Homo sapiens: one gene and its partners. The protein of the gene in region 4 interacts with the protein of the main gene of each other region in a biochemical or structural test. Each region holds a gene or a part of one and is shown on either strand. Other genes may lie near its edges.

Region 1 (7,182 bases), on a different chromosome or scaffold from region 4:
ACCACCTCGAACTCCCCATCTGCCCATTACAGACACCCCACCCACGTTGCCAGCCCAGAGACACTGCAGTCCACCCATCCTGGAGCGAGGTCCCGTCAGAAACCCACATCCCAGTGGCTGACGCTCCCCACGTCCCAGGCACACACCTCCAGCATCTCCAACGCGCACTCTCATCCACCCCAGCACGCGCGCACACCTGCTGGATTCACGCTCTCCAGCATCCTGCCCCGCCCCCATCACAAATAGCCTTCGACACCCCCCAGCACATCTCTGAGTCCCTCCCTCCCTCACCCCCAACACCTGGCACGCGGGCTCTAGAGGCTGCAGCATTTGGTGGCATCCCTGCCAGGCACCTCTGGCTCCCCTTCGGCAGAGGCTCAGCAGCCTTGGGCCCCCCAGGTGCCTCCCTAAACAGACCTTGAGACTCCCCAGCGACTAGCTTGGCCTCTTCCCTAAGAAATAAAGAAGGCACTTTGGGGTCCAAGGTAGGGTACTTAGATGTGGAAGCAAGGGGCCCCGGGGAGGGGCGGGGAGGCGGCGGAGAGAGCCCGGCGCTGAAATGGAGGCGGCCCAGGTGGGACCAAAGGGGCGCCAGCTGCCCGGCAAGCACGTAGTAGGTGGGTTCCATGGGGGCTGGCGTCCGCGCGCGCTGTCTGGGTGCCTGCCTGCGTGTGTGTTACGGGGAGGGCTGTGTGTGCACGTGTGCTTGTGCGTGTCGGGGTGGGGGAGGAGTGTGTGATCGGCAGAAGGAAAAGCAGGAGCAGCTCCCTCAGGCAACAATTGGTTTCATTCATTCATGCCTTCTTTGTTAACGAGCATTTCTTCCGCGAGCGCCGGGCGCGTGCCAGGCCCTGCACTGGGGGCTGGGGCCAGCCTGGGGCCGGGCACACACCCGTTCCTGCCTTGGAGGAACTCCCAGTCCCGCGAGGAGACCGACCAGGAAAAGCAGAAAGCCATCCCCAGCAGAAAGTGGATTTGGTGGAAAAGACACTGGATTTGGCAGGCACGCTGTCGCCGGGACTTGTGCTCTTGGCCATGTGACCCGGCCGCGACAGCCGAAATCCTGTCACTCGGCCCGGCGGGAACGGTGCATCTCGTGGGGGAAGGCGGCGCGGCGCCGCTCTCGGGAGGCTCCCGGGACCAGAGGGCGCACGCGGCGCGCGCGAGGCCTGCAGGCGGCGGCGTCCCCGCGGCCTCCAGGGGGCGCTGGCCCGGCCCGGCGGAGGCCCGGGGCGCCCGGCGGGGGCGGGTGCGGGGGCGGGGGCGGGGGCGGCAGGCGCAGCGCCCACCCTGCGGCGGGCAGCGAGCGCGCGGCCTGGCTCAGCCCGCCGGAGGGGGCCAGACGAGGCCCGGGCGCGCGGCGCGGCCTCCCCCAGCACAGCGCACCCGGGAGCGGCTGCCGGCGGGGCGGCGCCCAGAGCCGGCGCTACAGGGGGCCTGAGTGGGGGCGGCCCGGCGAGGGTCGCGGGTGAGAGGGGGATTAGGGGGTTGGCTGCGCTCAGCCCTGCAGTGCGGAGGTGGCAACAGGTTCCCATTTGTCCTGTTGCTGGCGCTGCGGGCGCTGTGGGCCCCGAGCACTGAGCTCTGACTTTGGAAATTGAGCCCCTCATGGCCTCCTCCCAAATGCTTTCTCCCGGTGCGAGGACTTGGCAGCAGGGCTCCGCAGTTAGGTGCAGGGGAGCCCCTCGCCAAGCGTCGGGAGACGTGGACCCTTGGATCCTAGGCTTCCCCTCCCTTCCCCATTGCGGAGGTTGCCTCTCCCCGTCCTCATTCCAGCCCAGCTCCTCTCACCTCCAGGGAACCCTCTCCAGAGAGCGCCACTGAGCAGCTCAGGAGCTCCCTCTCTAGCCGAACTGAGCCCCCACGGCAGGGCGGGCCGGGGAAGTGGCTGTCCAGCTCCCTGCTGGTCACAGCCCTGCGCCACCCCCACTCTCCACAACAAGACTGGCACATGGCAGAACCTCCGTGGTGCCTTCAACCCCTGCCCACTCTGAGCTCCCACCCACAGCTGCAGTGGGCCTGGAGGCAGCCCCCAGGCTGGGTGCCGGTGTCCACCTCCACCACTGTGGAGCTAGGCTGTGGACAGAAAACAGAAGACAAAGTCCCTGCCCCAGGAACACACTGAGAAAGGGGGAAAGTGACCACACTAGGGAGCACAGAGGAGGGAGACTACTGGCTCCGAGTTGGGAAGGCTGCCTGGAGGAGGGGGCCTGAAGAATGAGCAGAATCTCAGAATCTGGGCAGGGGGCATAGGAGGGAGGCCTGGGCTGGGGCCCTTGCCCACTGGGTGAGAGAAGGAAGGGCACAGTCCAGCTGCCCAAAGCCCTTGGATGCAGGAATTAGGACTCTTGTTAGACGCAGGGACATGGGGGGTGTGGCCGGAAAGCAGCCCAGTGCCAGGGTCCTGGGAGTCCCCGGCTAGCAGCCCACTGCCCGAAAGGGAGGGAGAGAGGCAAACTGGAAGCCCCTTAGAGGTGACCCACCTAGCTTTCCGTCACCTGCCCTCTTACCTAACCATGACCTGAGACATTTTCTCCTCTAACTCCATGGCTCCTGAGAGGAGTCTTTAGACTCGTAGTTTGCTTTGCATTTTCCACTTGTTAGAAAAATGCTTTGTGGTGCCCATCCTCGTGTGCATAACTTTGCTTTCTTTTACTTTAGTTCCTTAGATTCCCAAAAGTGGTCAAAGGGTTGGGATTTTTTCCTAGCTCTTGATATTGCCAGATTAATTTCCAAAGGGGCCGTACCAATATATAACCCTGCAACAGTTGAACAGCACGCTGATTTCACAGCAATCTTGCCAGCACTGCGTGTTCTCAAAAATGAGAACATTTCTAATGCAGTAGGTGGGAAGTGTTACCTCGTTGGTCATTGTTACTTGTTTATTGGAGTGGCTTTCCTTCCACGCCTGAAGTTGAACCTTCCCCCAAATATTTGTTAGGCCACCGCATTCCCTCCTTCCTGCAGTATGCAGTGTTTTCAGGTTCTTTGCCCATTTATCTACAGGGGTCTTAACCTTTTAGTTGGGTATGAGCTTTATCTTATCTGGCGTACATTTTCCTTCAACACTGTTATTTGCTTTTGTTGAGCTTTAAGCAGAGAAGGGACTTTTAGCCAGATCAGCATTGTGGACACCTCCCCCTGACCCTGGTCTCCTGCCTCAGTGCTCACCACACCTGAGACCTTGTCCAGTGCTCTTGCTGCCTGTGGATCTGTCCCGCCTGTTGTGCCCATGGAGGAAAGGATGGAGGCCACCAGCCTTGGTTGAGTGGATGGCATTCTGACGTTGGGCAGGGCTGGGCAGGGCAGGGTGGAGGGCAGGTCGTTGCAGGCCCGGAGGCAGGGAGACTGTTGTGCAAGACGTGACAGTGACCTGGCCTAAAGCTGATGAATTTGAGCCCTCGGCTAGGGCAAGGGACAGGGGAGAGAGGCGTGGATGTGAGAGATATTTAGGTAGAAACTAGTTCTTTCCACTTTGATTAGCCGAAGGGGGGTTAAGGGAAGGAGGCAGAGGGGGGAGCCACGGGTGACTCTTAGGATCAGTAATGTGATAAGAGCAGAGTGCCCCAGTTTAGGGCTGGGAGCTCAGGGTTCCTGGGTGCTTTTGGCCAGTCCTGTGCGAGTGAAGCGGGCTGGTATTGGTAGGTATCCAGGAGCTACCCCTGCCTGCCTAGCCCTGCAGCAGACCTCTGGGCCAAAGCTGCACTAAGTTTCTGGTCCTGCCTCCTCCTCCCCTCCGTGATTTCGGTGGCATCCCAAGTTTGCCCAAGCTGCTAGCTCTGAGCCCATTACAGAGATGGGGCCACTGAGATCCAGGCAGGGGAGAAGATGCTCCAGTATCACCCTGTGAGTTGGGCTGGAGGCAGCTTCTGCGGCAGAGGGGCTGGGCTCTGGTCCTCACCCCTCCCCCTGCCTCCCGAGGCCAGGCTGGCGCCGGCCAGGGGAGCCGCAGCTGGTCCCCTGCTGGGCCCCTGACCTGCCCTTGGCCTCTGCCCCGACCCCGTCCCGCCTCGGTGGAAGCCCCAGCTCAGCCGACTCGCAGGTCCCACCCGACTGCTTCGGCTAGCACCCGTTGGCTCACCGGCCCGCCGGGCCCGCCCCCGGAGCCCCGCCCCGGCCCGCCCCTCGGAGTTGTAACTCCACGTCCGAAGGCAGTTTCCAAGGTGGAAGCTGGGTCCGGCTGCCAGGAAGCGGCCGGTGCGCGGGCTGCGCGGGCTGCGCGGGGCTCGGCTTCCACGTGCGAGCCTGCACCGCCGCCCCGCCCTCTCCTGGCGGCCAGGCCTGGGGACTCTCTGCCGCGGGACGGCGCCTCGCGTTCCGCCGTGGCAGTGGCCGTGGCCAGAACGTCCACGCGCGGTCGTCCACCGCCGGATCTCGCTCCAGGTCTCTTTCCTTTTGTTCTCTCCTAGGGGTAGGGGGAGATGGGGGACCGGGGGCCAGACCACCTCTGAGAGGACTCGCTGAGGCCCAGCACCTCGGCGCCTCCTCTGTTCCCCTGGCCCACCTGGCCCTGGGGGAGATCTAGGCCTCGAACGGCACTCCTCGCACGCACACCCCCAGCCAGAGTCGGAAGCTCGAACTTGGGGAGCGTTCGCGAGAAGACCGAGACAGGAGCAGAAAGGGGGTATGGAGGGAGGCGGCTGCGACCTCAGGGTACCCCAAGATGAGCCTCGAAGGGGCGGTTAGCCGCTCAGCCCTCTTCTCGAGGACCCTTCCCCGGGCCGAGCTGCTGCCTGGGGGGTTTCTTGGGGCGCCTTGTTGGGAGTCCTCATGGTGGGGGACCCTGGGCTCCCGCCTTCAGGACGCGGGGCCGGCTTCAAGTCTGAGCCCCCTCGGCCCTCCGGTAGCTCACACCGCGCCTTCTCTCTCTTCGCAGCGCCCGTGGTCCAGCGTGTAGGGAGCCGATCGCCCATGGAGGGTCTGGGCCGCTCGTGCCTGTGGCTGCGTCGGGAGCTGTCGCCCCCGCGGCCGCGGCTCCTGCTCCTGGACTGCCGCAGCCGCGAGCTGTACGAGTCGGCGCGCATCGGTGGGGCGCTGAGCGTGGCCCTGCCGGCGCTCCTGCTGCGCCGCCTGCGGAGGGGCAGCCTGTCGGTGCGCGCGCTCCTGCCTGGGCCGCCGCTGCAGCCGCCCCCGCCTGCCCCCGTGCTCCTGTACGACCAGGGCGGGGGCCGGCGCCGGCGCGGGGAGGCCGAGGCCGAGGCCGAGGAGTGGGAGGCCGAGTCGGTGCTGGGCACCCTGCTGCAGAAGCTGCGAGAGGAAGGCTACCTGGCCTACTACCTCCAGGGTAGGTGCCGCGGGGCCCTCCTTCCAGGGGGTTCGGGATTCATTTGACCTTAGGCCAGCCCCACTTCTTTTTTTCTAAAGCGAGTTGAGGCCCCCCTCCCCTGATGACCTGCCAGGCTGCTTTGAGAGGAGGGAAGCCTGAGTGTGACCGTGGGGAAGTTCTTCACCCTCGGCAGCCCAGTCTCTGAGCCTGGAAAATGGGGAGAATTAGCCTGACCTGAGCTAGTTCTCAGGATGCTCAAGAACGAATTACAAAGTGCGGGCTCCCCAGGGTCTCGGCAAGGGTATCCCCACCTCCCCAACCTGCTCAGGAATGAGCAAGGGAGGCAGGGGTCAGACAGCACTGGTGCAATCACGGCTCACTGAAGCCTCCTGGGCTCAAGCGATCCTCCTGCCTTAGCCTCCCGAACAGCATATAAAGTGTCAGGTGTCCAGCCCGGGGAAATAGTATCTGTAAATAGAGATGCTGGCTTCTTGAGCCATATTCTCCCCCAAGTTCCCCCACATCTTGGGGTCCCACTTCATCCCTGAGAGTCAGGAGATGCCCAGGCAGAGAGCTGACATCTGAGTTCCTCCTTTTCTTTAGCTGATGGCCGCAGTCCTCCCTAAGGCTGGCAGTGCATCTCGGCTCTGTTGAGCCCTCACACCTGCCTCAGCTTGACCCTAGGGGTGTAAGATCCTTTCCGGTGGCTCAGCGTGAGCCCAGCTTCTTGCAGCCCGAGCTGACTGAGGGTGGCTAGGGCCCCACGTGGGTACCAGGACACACCAAGCTGCTGGGTTTTGTGTTCCCTTTGGGAACATTTGCAAACCCTCCAAGTTGTCCAGGGTCATCTCCCCAGCCCCAGACAGAGGCACTTGGCTGCCCAGAAGGCCAGGTCAGCAGGCCCCATGCCCTCTCCCCAACAGGAGGCTTCAGCAGATTCCAGGCCGAGTGCCCTCACCTGTGTGAGACCAGCCTTGCTGGCCGTGCCGGCTCCAGCATGGCGCCGGTGCCCGGTCCAGTGCCCGTGGTGGGGTTGGGCAGCCTGTGCCTGGGCTCCGACTGCTCTGATGCGGAATCCGAGGCTGACCGCGACTCCATGAGCTGTGGCCTGGATTCGGAGGGTGCCACACCCCCACCAGTGGGGCTGCGGGCATCCTTCCCTGTCCAGATCCTGCCCAACCTCTATCTGGGCAGTGCCCGGGATTCCGCCAATTTGGAGAGCCTGGCCAAACTGGGCATCCGCTACATCCTCAATGTCACCCCCAACCTCCCAAACTTCTTCGAGAAGAATGGTGACTTTCACTACAAGCAGATCCCCATCTCCGACCACTGGAGCCAGAACCTGTCGCGGTTCTTTCCGGAGGCCATTGAGTTCATTGGTGAGTCCACCCCACCCACCCTTCCCTCCTGTCCTCCCCAAGGCCTGCTCTGGCCTCCCCCTTGTGAGTACTCCTCCCAAGCCCCGCTGCCATTCCCAGAGCCAAAAGCCTAGGTGACAGTTCTAGGGGACAGGCAGAGCTAGGGCGGCCCCCAGAGGCCACTAGAGAAACCTGCAGGTCGTGGCCATCTGGCCCAGGGGGCAGGGCGGGGCCTTTGAGGGCCCTTCGGAAGGCCTCGGCCTCACACACGCCTGCCCTCCGGGTCTCCCGGGCCCTTTCCTGCCCCATCTAGATGAGGCCTTGTCCCAGAACTGCGGGGTGCTCGTCCACTGCTTGGCGGGGGTCAGCCGTTCTGTCACCGTCACTGTGGCCTACCTCATGCAGAAGCTCCACCTCTCTCTCAACGATGCCTATGACCTGGTCAAGAGGAAGAAGTCTAACATCTCCCCCAACTTCAACTTCATGGGGCAGTTGCTGGACTTTGAGCGCAGCTTGCGGCTGGAGGAGCGCCACTCGCAGGAGCAGGGCAGTGGGGGG
Region 2 (7,036 bases), on a different chromosome or scaffold from region 4:
CAGTGAGCAGAGATGCGGCACTGCACTCCAGCCTGGGTGACAGAGGGAGACTCTGTCTCAAAAAAAAAAAAAAAAAGCAGCAGCAACAGAGCAGTGCTTGCAGTAGGAGTTAGAGGTGGGGCATAGGCACAGAGTTCAGAATGAAATATGCAAATCTGTGGATGTGAGAATAATCTGGGTGATCAAGGAGATCAAAAGAAAATCATGTTGCTTTATAAGATTTATTTGTAAGTGGGGGACTGTCAGAATTGGATTTTTTTTTTTTTTTGAGATGGAGTCTTGCTCTGTTGCCCAGGCTGGAGTGCAGTGGTGTGATCTCAGCTCACTGCAACCTCCGCCTCCCAGGTTCAAGCAATTCTTCTGCTTCAGCCTCCCGAGTAGCTGGGACTACAGGCACACACCACCTCTCCTGGCTAATTTTTTATGTTTTTAGTAGAGAGAGGGTTTCACCATATTGGCCAGGCTGGTCTCGAACTCCTGACCTCGTAGTCCACCCACCTCGGCCTCCCAAAGTGTTGGGATTACAGGCGTGAGCCACCGAGCCCGGCCCAGAATTGGATTTTTTTTTTTTTTTTTTGAGATGGAGTCTCACTCTGTCGCCCAGGCTGGAGTCCAGTGGTGTGATCTCGGTTCACTGCAACCTCCGCCTCCTGGGTTCAAGCAATTTCCTGCCTCAGCCTCTTGAGTAGCTGGGATTACAGGCATGTGCCATGATGCTTGGCTAATTTTGTATTTTTAGTAGAGACAGGGTTTCACCACCATGTTGGTCAGGCTGGTCTCGAACTCCTGACCTCAGGTGATCCACCCACCTTGACCTCCCAAAGTGCTGAGATTACAAGGCATGAGCTACTGCGCCCAGCCAGAATTGGATTTTTAAATGCAGGCGGAGGAATTTAATGTGAAATGCCGCTGATAGAGAGCTGCTAAAGGTCGTTTGGAAAATACCCATCCCATTTGAGTCCCTGCGTATGTGGGTGTGTATGGGTAGGTAGAAGGTGGGAGGGAACAGATAAAGCTTCCCAGCAGCCAAGAAGCATCTCTTCCTCCTTTAATCACCTTAGCCAGTGGAGATCAGTGGGGCCATCGAGGAGGAGTTCACTGTGGCCCGACTCTACATCAGCAAAATCAAATCAGAAGTCAAGTCTGTGGTCAAGCGGTGCCGGCAGCTGGAGAACCTCCAGGTGGAGTGTCACCGCAAGATGGAAGTGACCGGGCGGGAGCTCTCATCCTGCCAGCTCCTCATCTCTCAGGTGAGTGCCTAAGTTTGAGAACCTTCAGATGCCATGGGAGAAAGAAGGCTACTCTGGGGTTATGGCTAAAACTCCTAACACCCACCTTTATGTCAAAGTTCTGGGGTCAAGTGAAATCAAGGACAGAAAAGCTGGGGTGGCAGGGGTGCAGATCAGGGCCAAAAAAGTAAAGGCTCAGGGCGGGTACTGCCCCCTGAGCCATGGGAGCTAAAGGAAGAGCCCCATAGGAATGGCCCCCAACCCTGCACCCTCATGGGAAGTGTAGCAGGAGGGAGGGCTGGGAGGAGAGCTGGAGTTGGAGATCTGTGTGGCCTGGGTTTGTGTCCTTTGCTCCATCTTCTTCCTCTCACCAACTTTCTCCCACCAGCATGAGGCCAAGATCCGCTCGCTTACGGAATACATGCAGAGCGTGGAGCTAAAGAAGCGGCACCTGGAAGAGTCCTATGACTCCTTGAGCGATGAGCTGGCCAAGCTCCAGGCCCAGGGTGAGGCCTTCTTATACCTCCATCCCACTGTCCAGGGCAGAAAAGTCAGAAACATCAAAATAAATCACCCCAATAATCACTCACTCAAAGCATTAGCTTGAAATCATGGATGCCAACTCATATGTTAGCCAAGGTTTTGCATGTAGCTCATTTTACATTAACCATACACCCTTGTTCTCTGTTCCTGCTATATCAAATTGGACAGTCCTAACACAGAAGAACATCCCTGTGGGTCCATTCCCAGCCCTGCCTGGAGTTCTGGTCACAACGTGAAGTTCTTTCCGAAAGAGGTAGGTTTGATGTCAGCTGTCTTCCCCTCTTTCCCTTAGAAACTGTGCATGAAGTGGCCCTGAAGGACAAGGAGCCTGACACTCAGGATGCAGATGAAGTGAAGGTGAGTAAGGAAGGTGTCAGGGACAATTGGGGCCTGGTGTGGTGAAAGCTGTGCTGGCCCTCACAGAGCTTGTTGCTGGGAGTCTGGCCTTTGAGCTTGGGGTGGGGTTGTTTGCAGAAGGCTCTGGAGCTGCAGATGGAGAGTCACCGGGAGGCCCATCACCGGCAGCTGGCCCGGCTCCGGGACGAGATCAACGAGAAGCAGAAGACCATTGATGAGCTCAAAGAGTAAGGGTTCCCAAGGGCGACTCCAGCCCCTCCCGGGTCCTGTCACCTTGCTGTATTGACTCACATGTCCCCTCTGGGTCTGATTCTTTAACATCCATGTGTCATTCCCTCAACAATGCCACAACTTCGTAGCCCCACCTCAGGAGACACATGGAATAACGACTAGTCCCTATCCTTGAGGGTCCCAGGATTAGAGAGGTCAGGGTTCCTGGCTCTGTCATGGAAACAGTGGCCTGAGTCTGCCTCTGGTATCTGAAGGTGGACACATCAATTCTAACTGGACTCACTCGTTCAAAAAGGAAGAAGTTTGAAGAGCTGGCCTTCCCTTCCCCCTCATTAACATCTTTCTCCCCCATCTCCATTACCTTCTGATGCTCTGTAGCCTAAATCAGAAGCTCCAGTTAGAGCTAGAGAAGCTTCAGGCTGACTACGAGAAGCTGAAGAGCGAAGAACACGAGAAGAGCACCAAGCTGCAGGAGCTGACGTGAGTGGCATGGATTTACCTGTAAAACTACAGCCTTGTAGGCTCAGAACTGTGAACTCAGACACGCTTGCAGAGGCAGGACACACATGCAGACATGATAGGGTGACTCATGGGAAAAATATGATGGGGTAGGGACGGGACCAAAAGGACACTCTCAGCAAAGACTGCCGTTGAGTATTCACCAGTATGGAAGGAGGTTTACGTGTTCTATTCAGTGTAAAAACAGGTTACAAAACCATATGCATGGTATGATCCCATAAAAATGTATACATGGATATGTAGGCATAGAAAAAAGTCTAGAAAGGTGGACACCAGAAGGTTAATGTTGGTTTGATCTGTAAATAGTAGAATCATAGGCTTTTTATAAAAACTCACCTTATGTCTCTCTTTAAAATTCTTTTCTAATTTTTGCACAGTAAACATGAGTAACTTGTGTAATAAATAATAATAGGCTGGGTGCGATGGCTTACACCTATAATCTCAGCACTTTGGGAGGCCAAAGCAGGTGGACTGCTTGAGCTCAGTAGTTCGAGACCAGCCTGGGCAACATGGCAAAACCCTGTCTCTACTAAAAATACAAAAATTAGCTGGGCATGGTGGCATACGTCTGTGGTCCCAGATGCTTGGGAGGCTGAGGTGGGAAGGATCCCTTGAGCCCAGGAGGTTGAGGCTGCAGTGAGCCCTGATTGTGCCACTGTACTCTATCTAGCCTAGGTAACAGAATGAGACCCTGTTTCACAAAATAACAATAATAGTAATACTTAAATGGAGATAAAAGTAATAGAGGAAGAGGCAGGAGGAAGGAGAGTCCTGAGGGATCTTTCCATTTCCCTTATTTCTCTTGCTACAGATTTCTGTACGAGCGACATGAGCAGTCCAAGCAGGACCTCAAGGGTCTGGAGGAGACAGTTGTGAGTGGTTCCCTTCTGTGCCAAATTCACAGGACTGGGGAGTGGGGAGGCTTCATTTCTTCCTAACCCTATTCCTCCTGCCCTTTTGCAGCCATTCTGTAGCGTAATCAAGACACATTTTTTCCTAAAGGATAAGTGACTCACTTGATTATAGAGACTGGAGGTACCTATAATTCTGGAGGAATAGGACAGACCTGGTATCTGGCTATTCCCAATTTTTCATCATTCTTTCCAGGCCCGGGAACTCCAGACCCTCCACAACCTTCGCAAGCTGTTCGTTCAAGACGTCACGACTCGAGTCAAGAAAGTGAGTGCTGTCCTTGGGGTTTTGTCAGCCCCCACATCCTCCTCCTATCCTTAGGTTTCTCCTGCCCCTGTTGCCCCTATGGGGCTGGCTTGGCCTGGTCTTGGTGGGACCTGTTTGGCCTCAGGACAGCCACGTCTTTCCTTCTATCTGTTCTCAGAGTGCAGAAATGGAGCCCGAAGACAGTGGGGGGATTCACTCCCAAAAGCAGAAGATTTCCTTTCTTGAGAACAACCTGGAACAGCTTACAAAGGTTCACAAACAGGTAAGAGTCTGCTGAAGGAGTGAAGAGAATTTTTGAGGCCGGGTAGCTAGCATACCAAATCCTCAGAGGCCCCTTGGATTCAGGAAAATCTAGTTGCATGTTTTCCTTACTGTTCGCTTTTACTTTCCCTACTAATCCCTTCTTTATACCATATTTGGTCCACTTGTACCTTGTTCTTTGTTTCATGCCTGTATTCCCTTCTCAAAGTTTCTAACCCACCTCTGCTCAAAGTGGAATTCCCCAGGCCTACCTTGGAGGGAGAGGTTGAAACTAACAGAGGCATGGGCTGTAACTATACAGGAGGGAGACTGGTCAGACGTTACCCAGAGATGGAAGGCAGGGAGATGAGAAGAAGCAAGGGAGTTGGGCTTCTTTCGTGGAGAGAACTCCATCTGTCTAGGTCTGTGGCAGGCATGCAGGGACATTAAATGATGTCCCTGGCTAGGCACAGTGGTGCATGCCTGTAGTCCCAGCGCTTCAGGAAGCCGAGGCGGGCGGATCACTTGAGCACAGGAGTTCAAGACCAGCCTAAGCAACATGGCGAAACCCCATCTCTACAAAAAATACAAAAATTAGCCGGATGTGGTGGCACACACCCATAGTCCCAGCTACTTGGGAGGCTGAGGTAGGGCAATTGCTTGAGCGCAGGAAGTAGAGGCTGCAGTGAGCTGTGATCATGCCACTGCACTCCAGCCTAGGTGACAGAGTGAGACCCTGTTTCAATTAAAAAAAAATGATGTCCCTAAGATGGCCCAACCAGCCCCTGGTTGGGGCCCCAGTCAAAACTCCTGTGTATTAAGTTGCTGCCTCTCTGTCCCCCTCCTTGCTGTTGCGGTTCTTTAGGTGGATGACTGGGTTTCAAAGGTATGGGCTGGGGATGCAGAAGGGCAGTCCAAAGGAGTCAGGACAGGAAATGTTTGGTGCATGCTGGGTAGGGGCACTCTCACTAGCACTAAATATCTGAGCCTTGAAGACAGGCTCGGCAGGCTGTCAACTGGTCCTTTTAACTAATTCATAAAATAAACCCTAACCTATACTTCATTCCTTTCCTTTCAAATCTACCTTAAGATTCCATTTAAACTTACATTCTCACTAGCCTAGCACTTAAACTTCTTTTCCTCCCAGTATAATGCCCAGCTTATATAGTAAATATTCAGTACTTTTTTTTTTCTTAATGAATCCTAAACCTGTGCCCAGTGATAATGTACAGAGTTTATTTATCTTATTTAGGCCTGCAGAGGGCTTTGCTACGATTTTATTTCCTTTATTATGAAACTGAGTAACAAAATTATAGAAAAGTTGAAAGGCAGATAGGAAACATTTGAAATCAATTCTGCCATTCGATTTTCATTCCCGCATTCACTTTCCCTCTCTGTCCAAATCCATATTATGTTGCTTAGAACACACACACACATGTGTGTGCTACTCTGGGCCTCTCTGCCTATGGGAAAGCCCTGCTCTATGGAGCAAGCCCCAGAAAAATTTCCATGAAAAAACACAACCACACACTGTTTCCTTTATCGTCACTGAAGCCTCTGCCTCTGTTCAAAGTCCCAAAAAAACAAAAATGACTCACCTATAGGATAAATAGAGGACTCACTACAATTTCCTACCTCAGCAGACACAAGAGTAAAAAGGAAAAGGAGATAAAAACTTCTCAGTTAAGAGAATCTTAACAGCCAGGACTATAGCCCTATATCAATTAAGCTAAAGTATTGTCACAGCAAAACATTGCTTATACTCCATAAATTGTCCAAATGGAAACTGCATGGAAGGGTTTCTAGCTTGTCCCCTTGAGCCCCCAGTGTTCCCCGCTATGCTGATTTACCCGCTGTCTTCCAAGGCCCTGCTCCTTTTGCAACCTATAGTGCCCCCAGTCATTGTGTGGAACCTGTAAAAAGATCAGGAAGTCTTTTCGGGCTGCAGGGTGGTTGCTCCCATGCTCTAGCTTAATTTCACTGGGGGAGGGATAACCCAGGAAGTCCTTGAATGTGAAGGTAATGAGTGCAAATGTTTGTGAGACCTCAAACATTTTCTTTCCTTCCTACGGGGCGGGCTCTGCCTGTCTATATGTGTATGTCAGGGGCTCCTGAATTCCAGCTTCTGCTCCTGCTCTGCACTGCACCTGCCATGCACAGATTCTCCTCAATGCCACAGCCACCAAACTGCTACTGTGCCCTTGCTGCCCCACCCTTTGCATGCCCACAAAGCCCTCTCTGGGGAAGCGGGTCCCTCATCCCCATGGCCGCCCTGGGGCTATTGATCTGGCACATGCTGGGAGATGTGGGGGAAACCAGATGGAGACAGGACAAGGCGCTCTCACAAGAGTTCTGGGCTGCAGTGGAGATGGCAGGTTTTACTGCCTAGAAAATTATATAACTTTTAAATGCCTGACCACCCACCCTTCGCTCTGGGAGAAGGAATGAGCTGGACAGAACAGTCCATTACATAAAGGCAATGAGGCCTTTTGAGGAAATGACATGGTCTCCATCTTCTCTGACTCCTGATTTTTCTTTATTCTCTCTCCTCACCCCTGTCCCCTACGCTCCTCTGGGTGACCGTCTTGGGTCACTTGCCTTCCTTTCCACTTCTTCCCTTTGGCTTGCCCCATAGCTGGTACGTGACAATGCAGATCTGCGTTGTGAGCTTCCTAAATTGGAAAAACGACTTAGGGCTACGGCTGAGAGAGTTAAGGCCCTGGAGGGTGCACTGAAGG
Region 3 (5,175 bases), on a different chromosome or scaffold from region 4:
AAGTCCTGCCAGGCCGCCAGCCCAGAGCCTCCTCACCCTATCCTGTTCCTCCCACCAGGCCTGTGGCCAGTCTTCCTGATCTCCATCTTTCTGCCCTGCATACCAGCCCTCCCAGCAGCCACAAGCTTGCCCGCCCTGGCTCCCTCTGCCCAGAGACTATGGAGTAAGGCATTCAGGACAAAAGGACCAAGGGGGCGTGGACCCGTCTTGTACCAGCTGGCCACAGGCACAAGGGCTGCAGCTGCTTCTTCCAGGAAACTGACACAGGGAGCTCAGCGGCCTCAGATCCTGGGACCCCTGGGCCGTGCCTGCCCTCCACCTTGAGTGCCATACTCCCAACAGCTCCAGGTACCCACCGGGGGATGTGCCTGCTCAGGAAACCTCTTTGCTCCACACAGCATGGGGCTTCAGCTGCTGGCCCAAGGCCAGGAGCGCTGGGTTCTGCAGCAGGGCTCAGCCTCAGGGGCGTTAAGACCCTGGATGACATCAATAAAGGGACAGGAAGGGCCATGTTGCCACATGAGCAAGCTTGGGTGCTCCCAAGGTTCAAATACTTTTTATTAGACACGGCCAGGCAGAGAAGACCATGGGAGTTCCCGAGGGGCCCCAGCTTTCAAGGGCGACGGGAGAGACACAGGATAAAAGGTTAAAAGTGCAGAGGCAGAGTCTGGGGCTCAGGTTGGGTCTAGGGTGTCCTCAAACAGGCTGAGGAGGTTCCGAGGCTCAAAGGAGGGGAAGGAGCCCCGAGGAGGCTCTGAGTTGATGTCACTTAGGTCCAGGGCATCCCTGGGAGGAGAGAGTAGTGACACTCAGGATCCAAAAGCTAGCCCTGCCCACCCCAGCCCCTGGACCTGCTTACCTGGGTGTGCACCTGCTCCGGGGGGTGGAGGTGCTCCCCACAGTCCGGGCCAGGACAGCCTCAGGGGAGAGTGAAGGCCTGCAGGAGGGCAGGCGAGACAAGGAGGGTGTCCAGGGCTAGGGAGTGCCGGATGAAACCAGCTCTGTCCCTGTGCAGGCTCCAGGCTCCCGCCTGACAAACAGGCAGGGAGCCACAGTCAGGGACAATAAAAACTTGGTGCACTCTGAAAGCAGCACTTGGACAGCCTTCAAAGTCCTTCCATCTGGCTGCACTCCAAGGCCCCCTCTGTCCTTTTCAGAACACATGGACTTGGAGGCAGATTTGAAATAAACTTTTAGTAAATGTAAGCCTTTCTGGAACTTCTTGTCTGCTATCAAGTGCCCCGAGGGATGAGGTGATGTGTTTGTAAGGAAGGGGCTAACGGCAGAGTCCCCAAGAGCTGTCTGCCCTGAGCGTGTGGTTTCCTAATTACAGCCTCTCACTCAAGACACCAGGCCCCAGGGACCAAGGACTTGTTCCCAGGGCAGGGCTCCCCAGACTCCAGAGGCTTTCTCTTCCCAGAGAAGGGACAATGTTTTATCCCTGGGCACTGGCAGCCTCCACTGGGGTCGGGGCTGCGCGGCCAGCCACTCCCTGGGGTGCTGGTGCCCTAAGTGTGAAGCCATGCCCTGAACGGCCAGTCCACATGCCCAGCTGCATTAAGCCTGGCCAGGCCACACACCCCCAGTCTTGGTCCCCTTCCCCAGGATGTGATGGGGGCCAGGTTTGTGGGAGTGGTCCCCATTCACCACGAATCTCCATGGAGCCCCGGTGATATCCCCCACCTTCCCCCTAGCCCCCCATACCCTGCACTTGAACCCACCCTAGGCTGTCGTCATCCCAGTTGCTGGAGAGGCTGCTGTCCAGGAGCAAACTGCAGGGTGGTGAGCCAGGCGGGGTGGCTGGCGGGCCCAGGGGCTGTAGCCAGCTGGCAGGGTGAGCCAGCCCATGCCAGAGCCAGCAGAGCAGGGCAAGCAGGGCCTGTGGGGGAGAGGAGCTCAGGATGTGGGTGGGCGGACCCCCGGGGCTGGGGAGCAGGGCAGGCAGCCGCCACTGTCGGGAGCTTACCTGCCACAGGGCCCACCCTCGGCTCAGGGCCTCCGCTGCCATGCACCACAGCACACCCCAGGCCCGCGGCTGCCTCAACACAGGCAGTGCCAGCAGGGCCTCGGCCGTGGCCCGCAGCTTGGGGTCTGGCTCCAGCATCATGACAAGGACAGAACGCAGCTCGGAAGACAGACCTGCCCATGAGGAAGGGCCACATCGGGGTCCCAGAACACCGACTGCACCCTGAGCCCAGCAGTGCCTCCATGGCCAGCCACTATCTCCCCAGGAGCCCGTGGCAGCACCCCCTCCCGCCCTCACCTACTCACCGGCAGTGAACTCAGGGGGCAGGTAGCCCTGGCGCAGCTGCTGCCAGCCCTCCCCACCGTGGGGCAGCTCCATGTTGCATGCCACTTCCAGGATGGTGAGGCCCAGACTGGCAGGGACGGGATGGGGACAGAAAGGGGCAGGGTTGGCCCTGGGACACAGACCCAGTCCAGGGCTGCCTCTTGGAGGTGGGTGGGAGAGGGCTGCTGTCTTCATCAGTCAGGGAGGGGCGGAAGCAGGGGGAAGGGACACCCCAACAGGCCTGATCATGAACCCTGGGCAGGATGGGGACATCATGGAATATGGGCTCTGTGCCCAGGGAGCCCACAAGCCACAGTGGTGAGTCCTCCCAGTGCCCTGATGGACAGGCACCACAGTTACTGCTGGCAGGTATTACTATCCTGATGATCAGGGCAGTGGTTACCAGTGTGGACCCTGGAACCCAGCACCTAGGGCCAGTCTCAGCTATGCCACTTGCTAGCAGTGGGCTCCGGCAAGGCCCTTAATCTGGCTGTAAATGGAGTGACAATTGTTTCTCCTGTGGAGCTGTGAGGAGGCAGGTTACACAAAGTGGCTCTGGAGGGTTCGAGGCTCACAGGCAGCCTGACCAGAGACGCTCTCCACTGGAGGGCAGGGATGGCGTCTCAGCCTTGTGGCTCTGAGGCCGGGTGTCCTGGGCTAGGGTGGAGCTTCCCTCCTGGGGAATGGAGCTTCCGTCCCAGGAAGGGCCTCCCACAGCCTGCCAAACACCTGGCGTGCCCCGGTCCCCACCTGAACACATCCGCTGCTGTCCCATAGGAGCCCTGCAGCAGCTCGGGGGCCATGTAGCGGGGGTCTCCCTCCTGGACCTCACCAGCTCCTGCTGTACCCAGCTCCACCAGCAGTCCGAAGTCACCCAGCTTGCAGCGGCCCCGGGGCCCCAGGAAGATGTTGGCAGGCTTGACATCAAGGTGCACCAGGCCCTGGCTGTGCAGATGGGCCAGGGCAAGCAGCGTGTCCCGCAGGTAGCCCCAGACCTGGGCCTCAGGCAGGCTGGCACCCCAGGCCTCACAGTGTTGCTGCAGGCTGGGCCCGCACAGCTCCGTCTGCAGGTACAGGATGCCGCCCTCCTCCCAGGCCTGCTCCAGCCGCACGCAGCATGGGTGCTGCCCCACCTTCTCGTGGCTGCCCACCTCGGCCAACTTGCGGGCCCGGTCCTTGGGGCCCCGGAATGGTGACATGGAACGCTTTACCGCATAGAGCCGGCCGTCCTCCTTGGAGCGCACCTGGAAGGGAGGTGGTACCCACGCACACAGTGAGGGTGAGCCACAAGTGGCACAATCACATAGGGGGACAACCTGGCAGACCCCATTAAGGGTTCACACACGGGGCACGGTGGTGTAGCTGGCATCTGTCTCAGACCCCTGCCCAGGGTAATAACAAAACCAGACAAACCTCCATCCCTCGGGCTGGGTCTGTGGAGACCCAGCGACGGAGGAGCCAGGGCCGACCTGCACTGACCCCAGGGGACCTCTTGGATGTGTCACGAGGTGGAAAAAGCAGCTGCAGAGCAACACAGGCAGCCCAGGCTGTGGTGTGAAAAGTGGGCTCCCCTGTGAGAAAGCTGACCTGGGGGCCAATGTTGTTTGTACTTTTTAACAAAATTGTCTTCATACAGGACTCATACAAGGGAAAACTCCTCTCTAAAAGAAAATATAAATGACTGGAAACTGTGTTTAAGAAAAGCAAGATGGCAGGCAGGGGGTAGCTCAAAGCCTGCCAGCCTGGGGAGGGCTGGCCAGGCACTGCACTCAGGGCCAGTGCCAGAGGCTGGGCCGACTCGCCAAGGACGCTGCACAGCTGGCGCCAGGGCCGGAGGAGATGGCACAGGGGCTGCTGCAGGGCGTGCCAGACTCTGGACAAGGGGCCAGTATGCACAGAGCAACCCCTGGAGGGGCCTGCATTGGGGATGATGGGAGCAGCCAAGTCAAATGTGGAGGGAGCCTGTGAGCCCAGCAGGGACAGGCTGTAGGGAACGGAAGGGGATCAGGCTGCCCAGGACACTGTCCTGCCAAGGGAGGTGCAGAAACACAAAGGAGGTCCCCCAGATGGGCCTAGAAGCCGTCCCCTCACTCACCTTGAAGACCTCTCCGTAGGAGCCATGGCCCAGGCGGCTGAGCCTCTGGAAGCTCTGCTGGAAGAAGGACTCTGGCCGGCTTGGGTCATACCCAGGGCTCTGCAGAGTCTCTGAGGCCTCGCCCCGGAATGACACCCGCCGGGGCTGCAGCTGGTGCCAGCCTGGGGTCCGAGGAGGGAAGAGGCGGCTGATGGGAATGCTGCCCTTGGCAGGGGGCGGAGGTGGGAGGCTCCGGCTGAGCCCCCTGGGCCTCTTGAGGGAGAATCCAGGTTCTGCGTGGCGGAAGTAGGCTGGGACTGGGATGGGGGTGCCACTCAGAGGTGGCGGGGTGCCCTCCGTGGGCATGGGCATGGCCAGTGCAGGAGGCCCTGGGGGCAGAGACAGAGGCTGAGTACAGGGCAGCATGTCCACTCTGATACCACCTGGCCCTGTGGCTCCAAAGAGGCCACAGAAGAGAGCTATGTCTATACCACACACTTATTCTACTTTAAACGGCAATGGGAGCAATAAGCACCTACCAAGAAAAGGCAGAGGACAGATTCATACTCACCTGCCCACCAGGCTGTTGTATTTTAGAGATGATAGAAACATAAGAGGAAAACCATGGGGCCCGTGTTCTTGAGGGTCTTGCAGTCGGGTTAAGAGCAAGGCAGTTTGGAGTCAGACGGGCTGCGCCTGCATCCCTGCCCTCATCACGGCCAGCTCTTTGATCCTAAACTACACAACCTCTTCCGAGACTACACGGGCCCACGATCCCTTATCTCCAATTCCAAAGTGAAAACCCGGAATC
Region 4 (4,185 bases):
TATTTTGTAGGAAGGATGGCTGTGTACTCATGTGCAGGGAAAATTAAACTGCTGCAAGAGTTTGGCAAAACCGCCACCACTTTACTATTAATATGTCTTTACTATTTTTATATGTGTTTTGTGGGTCAGCGTGTTCAATTTTAAATAGGAATACACTAGCCTTACAACGGAATTTCTTCTTGTGGAATAAAAACTGATAATAACCTTTCATCTTCAAGAATCTGATGACTGAGTTTTGTAGGAATGTACCCAACAGTTGGACCAGAGCCTGGCCAGTTCCCACCAATTGGAGTAAGCTATTTAATTGAGGGTTAAGAAGCTCGATAGTTTTTTCAATCTGTTATCAGAAAAATATTATCTAAAGACACTGATAGCAGCTGACTGGTAAAACTGAAAGTTGGCCTTAGTAAATGGAACTAGTAAAAAATAGATAAAAATATGTAAAACCTTTTATGTCCTGTCAAGGAAAAAAAAATAAGCAAACTTGATTTGTTTTAAAATTGTAAATATTCATTGCAAAACCTAAATTATACAAAATCTATTTCGATTTGAATCTCTTAACATATGAAAAGCCACATCTTAAGTGCATTATGCTCTGTAAGGCATGTTATTAGCCAGCTTTGCTGAAAAATGTATTCTTCTACAGCTCAGAAAGAGGAGTAAAATTGCTCTAGAAATTTTTGATCTCAGCCACTTTGCATCCAAAGAGGAACCCAACTCCCCACTCACAATCCCCCACACACATTTTAATTATAAGAGTTCAACATTTTCCACAGATATCATTAAGCCAAGCAAGGAAACTCCTCTCTGTAAAAACAACAAAAAAGTTGCAATGTAAATAGTTATTTTAGCTATTTTCTTTGTGATTAGAGGATAAGATTTTGTTATTTCTTTTGGTACTTAGTCCTTTAACTATCTGAAAATGGCTCACTTTGACCTGTTTCTTTGGTCAGCCAAACTGAAGTGAGGGGCCTCTGTTTATATATAGAATCTTGTATATGTAACTTTACTTATGTGGGACCAATGGCCAGTATATTCTAATGGACACAAATCTCCCAATCCTTATGTAGGATTATCTGTTCACCTTGCCATGTCCATCTTGCAATGAGACCTAACTTGCACCTGCCTGTTTTTCTGCATGATTGGACTCCAAAGACTATTACCAATGATGAGAATTGTCTTGTGTCAGTGTTTATAAAATGGACTTAAAGCACACACACATGCATACCCACATTCACATGCACCCTTACAGTTCTAGATCAACCCTGGAAGGCAAAACCATGTACGTCCAGTTTCTTTGCAAGGTCTGAGCAGTGAGAACTAAATTCAGTCAGTCTAATGGGTAAAATGCAACCTCAGTGATGCTTAATAAGGATTTGAAATCGTTCAAGTCATTTCTGTGTTCTTTCTCACACCCTTTCCTTTCTATTTTGTCTTCTTTTATTTTCAAAATGTCTGTGGAACAAGAGGATGAATCGGGGGAGAACTTCTGCTTCTTTTGACTCTTTTTAGGTAATATGGAGTCAATATATTATGATTTCTGTTTCTTATGGATTATTAAAATCAGAGGAAATCTGCTTCTCTCAACATAAAACCAAATCCAAACCCAGACATTGTTGGAGTTTGCCTGTTGACAATGGTTATGATGCTGCTCGTTGTCTTGAGTTGCATGTAACGACAGTAGCTCTGAAGGGTGTCATGATTTCATTTTGGCAACTGGTAAAAGAAACTTGTAGTGTGGTCTGATTGTGCCAGGGAATAAATAAGAAATAAGGAATGACCTACTTTCTCACCTTGGGTCAAGAGTGTGTGATATGAATGTGACCATGTAGAAATCTGTGTTTTCATTTGACACTGGTTTCTTCTAAAACTGACCTTCATTTCTGTCTGTAGATACTAGTTGTATATCTGCAATTCAGTAATTTCTTTTTAAGGTATAAAATCAATGAAGAAAAAAAAGATCATCTTTTGGGGGGGCATTAGGTAAGTAGAGCAGGGTTAAATTTCCCAGATTAATTATCAGATTTCTATTCATTTTAACTATTTTCCAAGAGAAAAGGTAAAAGCCTTTGTTTAGCTACATGATATCCAACTTTACTATCTCAAACTCCTTGGAGAATTAAAAATATATATGATTTTGTGGCTGGATGAAGAGGTCACTGCACTTGCATTAGTTTACTTTGCAGTGTTTGAACAGTTGAGGAGTGGCTCTTCTATTTCTGTAAATAATGTTTTATTTAACCAATTAACTATTAGAAAGCCTGGAAGATAAACATACACATTATTTTGAGTTATCACATTTATCGTTTTACCTAGTTCCTGTTGGAATATAGAAAGCAACAGCTTTTTGTTATCTCTGGAACAGCTTCTATCCTAGTTTAAATCACAGATCCTTACTCTCTTTAAAAAAGGTCAAGCATAGGTACCTAAAAATACCCACAATAATAAGAAGGGAAATTGCATTCCACAAGATGATTGCTCTTAAAGAGTCAGAAGGAGTTATTGGTGCATTCCTGATACCATAAATGGTTACCAAACATTTGGTAATTTTGACCAAGTTCACAGTAAGGAGAAAAAAGGGTGTTGGACTTGCTTTTCTTGAAGATTACTTATGGAGCAACCAACCTAGAAGGATGAATCTACTTGCCAATAACAACACTGGATCACAGCCAAGGCAGAGGTTTTTGACATTCCCAATTCATCATGGTGGTGTTTTGTATTTGTAACATGTCTTTTCTCCACAGATGTTGAAAGGCATGCTTGGATGACACATGCTAATAGTGAAACACGCTGAAAGTCCTGCCATCACAGATCACTTTATGTTGGGAGCCACTCTATGTGGCAAGTCATCTGTCCCAGTTCCAGACTAAATTTCAACTGTTCAACCATTTACATCATTGTAGTCTGTTTAAGGCACTAAAAATGTGCTGTAGAAATTTATATTTCTCAGACACATGAAATGTGGTGACACATCCAGCAACAAGTCAAACACTCCTTTGAAATTTTCTACCTTATGTCAAATATTTCTTACTTTTAAAGACATTCCTATCCTGGTGTAAAATCCAACATAAAATAATTTGAGGGAATTTAAGGAATTCAAATTTCACTCCGTGGGGTACGTGGCTTTATTTCTTAATCACTGAACTTCTAGTAATGTTCTTCACCTGATCTTGTCTGCGATGTTTAACCAACAGTCCAGATCATTTGCAACTCAAAAGCAGGTACAAAATGTTATCCATCTTAAAAACCCCTCACATATTCCCTAGAAGACTGTCCCACACATAATTCGCCTTCCATTAACACTTGTGAACCCATCCTGGTGAAAATATTGCCTATGAACAATTATACCAAAAAATCAATTTTTATAATGCAAATAATATTTTACACAGACCAAGAGAATTCATAATATTAAAGTATTTCTTTTATAAAAGGAAGGTTTTCAGAAAGCAATGGCCTATTCCTTCATGTTAATACATTGCGAACTTGGATTTGGTGTAAATCAAGCCCTGAGAATATTGCTCTGAATTTCTAGCTTAATTTCTGAGCAACATTCTAAAGCAGTTCATTAATTTACTCCAAAAACATTTCTTGGACACTTCGGTGTAGGAGATATATATTGCATGGTCCTTAACCTAAAAAATTCAGAGTTAATAAATCTTTGTTTAAAAAAACTAAAGCAAATATTTTTATTTCATTTATTTGCTATCTTTTTACAAAATGTATTTAAATTAGTGGTGTGACTTGCACGAGTCCATTTTTATTATTTGCTTAAAGCGATGAAACAAGGAGTCTGCTTCTTTCAATGTTCTTATTTTGTCTAATTATATAAGTATACTTCATGAATCAGCATGAGAATTTTGAATATTTTCCATTACAAGAGATGAAACCACTTTTAAAAATTATTTAAAATTTAAAATTCATTTTAAAAATGCATGGATGTTCTTTTCCGCATTGCAGAAAGTTTGCTTTGATGTATGGTTCCTCTGAGAGCTATTGGACCTAGATGCTGACTGAGCATGGGGCTTATACTTTTGGCATCACAATCTCCAAATTAGCAAATGATATCACAATGGGTACTGAAGCTTCTTTGCAGTGACATTCTTACATGAAGCCAAATCTTCGGAGTTTGTTCAGTCTATGGGTGACTGTTGGAACCCTAAAATAACTTAAAGTAGAATTTGGTCA

What was found.
Region 1: the proteins of MAPK10 (region 4) and DUSP9 form a complex in vitro, tested with the Homo sapiens proteins (one study listed by BioGRID).
Region 2: of the proteins of MAPK10 (region 4) and KIF5A, one has a biochemical effect on the other in vitro, tested with the Homo sapiens proteins (one study listed by BioGRID).
Region 3: the proteins of MAPK10 (region 4) and PKMYT1 form a complex in vitro, tested with the Homo sapiens proteins (one study listed by BioGRID).

What each region holds. Positions count from the first base shown.
Region 1 is NC_000023.11:153,643,043-153,650,224, forward strand, and holds the start of DUSP9 (dual specificity protein phosphatase 9), read left to right. Parts: upstream 1-4,160; 5' UTR 4,161-4,383; intron 4,384-4,876; coding exon of another isoform or gene 4,877-4,911; coding exon 4,912-5,284; intron 5,285-6,189; coding exon 6,190-6,645; intron 6,646-6,937; coding exon 6,938-7,182. UniProt on the Homo sapiens protein: Inactivates MAP kinases. Has a specificity for the ERK family.
Region 2 is NC_000012.12:57,574,023-57,581,058, forward strand, and holds part of KIF5A (kinesin heavy chain isoform 5A), read left to right. Parts: intron 1-1,061; coding exon 1,062-1,250; intron 1,251-1,617; coding exon 1,618-1,735; intron 1,736-2,064; coding exon 2,065-2,129; intron 2,130-2,246; coding exon 2,247-2,356; intron 2,357-2,738; coding exon 2,739-2,840; intron 2,841-3,690; coding exon 3,691-3,751; intron 3,752-3,986; coding exon 3,987-4,058; intron 4,059-4,215; coding exon 4,216-4,320; intron 4,321-6,933; coding exon 6,934-7,036. UniProt on the Homo sapiens protein: Microtubule-dependent motor required for slow axonal transport of neurofilament proteins (NFH, NFM and NFL). Can induce formation of neurite-like membrane protrusions in non-neuronal cells in a ZFYVE27-dependent manner.
Region 3 is NC_000016.10:2,972,279-2,977,453, forward strand, and holds the end of PKMYT1 (membrane-associated tyrosine- and threonine-specific cdc2-inhibitory kinase), read right to left. Parts: exon of another isoform or gene 4,791-5,175; coding exon of another isoform or gene 4,754-4,790; coding exon 4,386-4,753; intron 3,535-4,385; coding exon 3,041-3,534; intron 2,379-3,040; coding exon 2,272-2,378; intron 2,140-2,271; coding exon 1,967-2,139; intron 1,880-1,966; coding exon 1,722-1,879; intron 1,207-1,721; exon of another isoform or gene 976-1,206; coding exon of another isoform or gene 938-975; coding exon 860-937; exon of another isoform or gene 787-859; coding exon 675-786; 3' UTR 530-674; downstream 1-529. UniProt on the Homo sapiens protein: Acts as a negative regulator of entry into mitosis (G2 to M transition) by phosphorylation of the CDK1 kinase specifically when CDK1 is complexed to cyclins. Mediates phosphorylation of CDK1 predominantly on 'Thr-14'. Also involved in Golgi fragmentation.
Region 4 is NC_000004.12:86,009,891-86,014,075, reverse strand, and holds the end of MAPK10 (mitogen-activated protein kinase 10), read left to right. Parts: 3' UTR 1-3,671; downstream 3,672-4,185. UniProt on the Homo sapiens protein: Serine/threonine-protein kinase involved in various processes such as neuronal proliferation, differentiation, migration and programmed cell death.